2 separate regions of the Homo sapiens genome follow, and region 1 is linked to region 2. The links come from fine-mapping of genetic effects on gene expression. A gene starts in region 2. The other region holds a variant in brackets. All regions are shown on one strand. Distances are from middle to middle. Region 1 overlaps DTX1 (deltex E3 ubiquitin ligase 1). Region 2 holds the start of DTX1 (deltex E3 ubiquitin ligase 1).

Region 1 (2,895 bases), 22 kb after region 2:
CACTTCAGTGTCTGTCTTGGCCCTGGAGAGGTGGAGGGTGGGGGAGCCCTCCACACCTTGCTGGTTTCCTACCCCAGGCTATCTTGGCACCCCCACCCTGTTTGGTGGCTCTCCCGCCCCTACGCCCAATCTACTGACCACGCGCCCCTGCCCACCTCTCGCCCCAGTGCTATGCGCTGAACCTTTAGCCCCGGCCCCCCTCACCCTGGCTGCCGCCTGTCCTGACCCTCCAGCCTGTGCTGAACCTCATGCCTGGGCCTTGACCTCCTTCCTCTCCGTGCATGTGTTGACCCTCTCCCCAAGTCTGGGTGGACCCCCTGGAGGCCTGTGCTGACCCCCCAACCTCCCGCCCACCCTTGCCTGGCTGTGGCCCGCCCTTCCAGCCGCGCAGACCAACGCCCGCTGTGCTGACGCCTCCTCCCCATTTCGAGTACAGGCACCATGCGGCCCGTGCGGCGCAACTTCTACGACCCGTCGTCGGCGCCGGGCAAGGGCATCGTGTGGGAGTGGGAGAACGACGGCGGCGCATGGACGGCCTACGATATGGACATCTGCATCACCATCCAGAACGCCTACGAGAAGCAGCACCCGTGGCTCGACCTCTCATCGCTAGGCTTCTGCTACCTCATCTACTTCAACAGCATGTCGCAGATGAACCGCCAGACGCGCCGGCGCCGCCGCCTGCGCCGCCGCCTGGACCTCGCCTACCCGCTCACCGTGGGCTCCATCCCTAAGTCGCAGTCGTGGCCCGTGGGCGCCAGCTCGGGCCAGCCCTGCTCCTGCCAGCAGTGCCTGCTGGTCAACAGCACGCGCGCCGCCTCCAACGCCATCCTGGCCTCGCAGCGCCGCAAGGCGCCCCCCGCGCCCCCGCTGCCGCCGCCGCCGCCACCTGGAGGGCCTCCAGGCGCGCTTGCCGTGCGCCCCAGCGCCACCTTCACAGGCGCCGCGCTCTGGGCAGCGCCCGCCGCCGGCCCCGCCGAGCCCGCGCCGCCTCCCGGGGCGCCCCCACGGAGCCCGGGCGCCCCCGGCGGAGCGCGCACCCCGGGGCAGAACAACCTCAACCGGCCCGGGCCCCAGCGCACCACCAGCGTGAGCGCGCGCGCCTCCATCCCGCCGGGGTAAGACGGGGCCCAGGGGGAGGGGGCCTCTGCGTCGTCCGCAGGCAAGGACGAAGCCCGGGGGTGGTTGGCCACTAGGGCAGGAGCAAAGATTACAATAATAATAATGACGATAAGTAATATCCAGCATGCACTAAATGTTCATTTTGTGCCAAGCATCAACTAAGCACCTTTACATGTTCCCACACATCTATCTCCATGCATAAGGACCCTATGAGGTAGGTACCATCATCACCTCCAGTTCACAGATGAAGAACTAACTCCCCCAAGATCAGACAG[T/C]TCACAAGTGATGGGGCCATAATAGCAACATCAGCAATGGTGCGTGTTCCATGTTTATTATTTGCTAAACCCGTTATATGTATCACCTCGTTTATTCTGCCAAACAGTTCTACCATGTGCATATTATAGATGGGGAAACCGAGGCTAGGAGAGCTATGGTGCCTTCTCATTTATTCCACCAAACAGTTCTACCATGTGCATATTACAGATGGGGAAGCCAAGGCTGGGAAAGCTATGGTGCCTTCTCAGGGTCACCGGGGAAGGGTAGACATTGGAGTCCAGACCTGCCCAATTCCAAAGTCTGTGCTGTGTTGTCTTAGGATTTTTAGAGGGCTTCAGAGTCCATCTGTCCTTGTCCCAGTCCATGCCCACCTCACATGGTGGCTCGAGCAAGCATCAGCTGCTTGTCCAAAGTATTTCCCCATAGGCTGCACCTGAAATACCACAATTACTCTGGGTTAATACTATGGTTTGCACACTGGGCTCCAGGGACTCCCGGGGTGACCTGGAATCGTGGGGGGTGGGGTAATAGAAAGCCAGGCAAACGAGAGTCTGTCTCTCTGCTCTTGTTTTAACCAGAGCAGCCCTTTTTGGAAACACTTTTATGAACTGGCTTTCTCAGCATGATTTTATTAAGGATGGGCACCCAGCTTGTATCAAGTTTGCAAATTCTTGGGTTAAGGTGTCCCAGGCCCCAGGATAGGGACCCAGTGAGCTGCTGTTGGGTGCCTACCCTGGACTCCAGATTCAGTCATCTGAGCAAAGAACCAAGCCCTGAGGGGTGGCAATGAGAGGAAAGATCAAAGACCTTGAACTTGGGACAGACCAGAAGAGAAAAGACCAGGGGGGTTTGGACTGTGGTCCCCAAGAGGAAGAGAGGGCACCCAAAACCAACTGTGCTTCAATCACTATGGCATGGCCGGGGGAATTGATAATGATGGTCCGAGATCACCAAAGCTCAGATCTGGATGCGACCTTTGGGGTCACTGCATCCAGCTCACCCCTTTTATTATGGGCAAACAAGGCCTGGGAAAAGGAAAGGCCAGGACCCTGAACTAGGTGGCCCTATTCACCTTTTGTCCCTTTGGGAGTCTGACTTCCTGGGTTCGAATCCCCTCTTGGCCACTTCTCTTTTTTTTTTTTTTTTTTTTTTTTTTTTTTGAGATACAGTTTCACTCTGTTGCCCAGGCTGGAGTGCAGTGGCACAATCTCCACTGACTGCAACTTCTGCCTCCAGGGTTCAAGTGATTCTTCTGCCTCAGTCTTCTGAGTAGCTGGGACTACAGGTGCATGCCACCATTCCCGGCTACTGTGTGTGTGTGTGTGTGTGTGTGTGTGTGTGTGTGTGTGTGTTAGTGGAGATGGGATTTCACCATGTTTCCCAGGCTTGTCTTGAACTCCTGACCTCTTGTGATCTGCCAGCCTTGGCCTCCCAAAGTGCTGGGATTACAGGCATGAGCCACCATGCCCGGCCCCCTTCTTGACCACTTCTGAGCTG
Region 2 (2,895 bases):
CCAGAAGGCCATCCAGGGACCCTAGGCTAAAATCCCAGAACTCAGTGATCCTGTGGGAGTATCGTCAGACTTGGCCCTGCCCTATGCAAAGCCTCTCTCTTTAGTCTACAGCAGGTGAAAGCAAGCAGAATCATTGACCCAATCTGAAAAAGCCCATCCAACACTGGGCTGCAGGTCAGAGCAGGGGCCTGGGGAGGGGAGGTCCCTCCAGCTGGCCGGAGAGCCAGAGCTGGATTCTGGGAAAGCACCCCTGAGCAGCCTGCCCCTGACCCTGCCTAGTGTATCCCCATCTGCCCCGGGGAGGCAGGCGTGGGCTGCTCTGGGCAGGCGCCCAAACAGGCCACTGACCCCCGTCAGCCACCCAGGCTGGAGTTCCCGGACGCATCCTTCATCTTCCCCAATCTAAACACCCCCAGGCCCCAGGTGGTCCACCCCCCTCCCAGCCAATGTGTGTCTCAGCCGCATCCAGCTTGCTGGAGGACAGGGGGACTGGCCATCCCGTTAACACTTGAGCCGCTGCCATTTCCAGCCTTCCCTTCCATCCAACCAATGCTCACCCACCATTTATTGAGCACCAGTTGTTTGCAGGTGGCTGTGAATGACATGGCAGAGGGCCTGCCCTTCTCTTCCTCCAGGATCTCACCTCCTGGCCAGGGTCCCCTCCCCTGGTCCCACCCCTCTCACCTGGAGCAGGTGGGTGCTTTGGGGGAAGTGGGCTCAGGGCTGGGAACTGGGTACTGGCAGGAGATTCAGATCGGGGTTGGTGTCTGGGCATCGCTCTAAGCTTTTGTGATCCTGGGCCTGGCTCTTACTCTCTCTGGCTTCAGTCTCCTCATCTGTACTCTTCAGATTCCACGGTTCCAACTGAGTCTGAATCAGGCCTTGTCAGCACCCTCCCACCCCCAGGAATAGTTAGAGGAGGAAAGGAGGCTAGCTCTGAATGCTTCAAGATCTTTCTTTAGACAGTCTCTGGATCTTATTCATTCATTCAAGCATTTATTGAGCACCTATTCAGTGCCAGGCCCTGGACTGGGAGACTGGAAATAAAGATGACAAAGATTCAAGCCGGTGACTCCTAAACATCCCACTCCCTGCCTCACGCTCTGCTTGGGGTCAGAAGGCCCCTTGGGGTCTCGGGAGGGCCTGGCCGAGGATTTGGGGCGCCCCGAGACTCGCGTGTCAGCGCCGGTGGCGCTCAGGGCCGAGATCTGTCTCCTCCCCTTCCTCCTCCTCCGCCCCCTCCCCTCTCCCTCCCGGAGCACGGCCGAGGCCTCCTCCCACCCGCGAGATCCCGGCGGCCGCCAGCCGGCTCCTGCGTCCGTCCGTCGGCCGGGCAGTCTGTCCACGCGCGGAAAGCTCGGCGCGGCGGCCGAGGGGCCTGGGAGGGAACGGGCGCGGAGGCGGGACCGCGGCTCCCTCCCACTCCGGGGGGAGCCCAGGAGGCGGCGGTGCTGGAGCGCGAGCCGGAGCCGGAGCCGGAGACGAAGAGAGGCGGTGAGAACGCGGGTGCTTAGGGACCCCACCCCCGGCTCCCGCTGGGGGCCCGCGAGCGGCTCGGGGACGTCTGGGCTGGGGAAGCGGGGCTGTTACCCCCAGGGCGGGAGGCAGAGACGATCCAGCTCCTGGCTTCGCCCCCTCCGCGACGCGACCCCCGAGGGGCCCTGGGCCGCGCCTGCAGCGCCGCGCATCCCCGTGCTTCCCGGCGCACCCCAGCGCACCCGGCATCCCCCCGGCAGGGCGAGGGCCCCGGGGGAAGGGAAGGCTCCGGGAGCCAAGGAGGGCGCCCCCCAGGCGGAGAGTCTCGGAAAACCGCGCCCCCGGCCCCTGCCTTCCCTCCAGGCCTGCCCCAAGGGAAAGCGGGCGGGGCGACCCCGTACGCCCCCCTTGCTGTCCCCCTTCGGTTCCCCATTGTTCTCAGCCGAATGCTCTCCTGGGAAGGGGGGAGGGGGTGCTGCGCTCTCCTCTTAAAGGGCCCTCTCCCCTCTTGTCTCCTGGCAGGTCGCGAGCACGAGTGGGGTGGGGCGTGCCCACGGGCCCCCGCCCCCCTCGTCCCCCTCGTCCCCCAGCCCAGCTCCGGAGCCGCAGTCCAGGCGCGCCGCCCGAGGGTCCACGCCGCACCCCTCCCCCGTGCGTTCTGCGGCCACCCAGGCCTTCCAGGACACCGTGGAGAGGGAACAAGGGGGCAGGGACGCCCCCTTCGGCAGGAGCCGTCGGAGAAGGGGGCCCAGACCGGAGGGAGGCGAGAAGCCCCACTGAAGCCGGGCGCAGGGTCTGGGACGCAGTTGGGAGTGCAAAGGGCTGGCTGAGAGCCGCAGGAGCAGCAGGCTGTGGCCCAGGCCTCCTGGGTGACAGGCCCTGTCTGGCGGGGAAGAGGGACCAAGAGACAACACGGAAGAGGCTGGACCTCGAACAGGGGCGGCTGCCTCACTCCCTACCTGAGCCAGCCGAGGGGGCCAAGGACTTTAGAGCTGTTTCCTCCGGCATAAGAGAGACACTTGCTTTCCAGGGCAGCACCCTTTATCGGAGAAGGCTCTACAGGGAAGGGGTCTTTGCAGCCTGGATGGCCATCCCACATTCCTTTAACGGAGGTCTCTAGGCCTCAGAGAGAACCCAGAGTTAGAAAGGAGGCCAGACGGTCCTTGCTGTCCCCCTGGGGAGAGAGGAAGTTGCCGCCTGCTGCCAGGCCCAGGAGGAGCTGGGCCTGCAATAGTGGGGGACCTGGCCCCTGAGGCAGTGGCGGCCATGTCACGGCCAGGCCACGGTGGGCTGATGCCTGTGAATGGTCTGGGCTTCCCACCGCAGAACGTGGCCCGGGTGGTGGTGTGGGAGTGGCTGAATGAGCACAGCCGCTGGCGGCCCTACACGGCCACCGTGTGCCACCACATTGAGAACGTG

Evidence for each region. PIP is the estimated chance that this variant, and not a neighbour inherited with it, causes the effect. A credible set is the group of variants that fine-mapping cannot tell apart.
Region 1: its variant is the best candidate, but not a certain one, in a credible set for the expression of DTX1 in subcutaneous fat (GTEx, PIP 0.86).

The regions. Positions count from the first base shown.
Region 1 is chr12:113,076,988-113,079,882 of GRCh38, forward strand. It overlaps DTX1 (deltex E3 ubiquitin ligase 1), which reads left to right. Exons shown (of 10, transcript NM_004416.3): 3 at 437-1,118. Among named protein-coding and RNA genes, the nearest start is that of DTX1, 22 kb to the left of the region's middle. The variant T/C (reference allele first, on the strand shown) is at 1,398.
Region 2 is chr12:113,055,451-113,058,345 of GRCh38, forward strand. It overlaps DTX1 (deltex E3 ubiquitin ligase 1), which reads left to right and starts at 1,280. Exons shown (of 10, transcript NM_004416.3): 1 at 1,280-1,494; 2 at 1,999-2,895. The coding sequence starts at 2,743. RefSeq lists an enhancer at 2,518-2,895.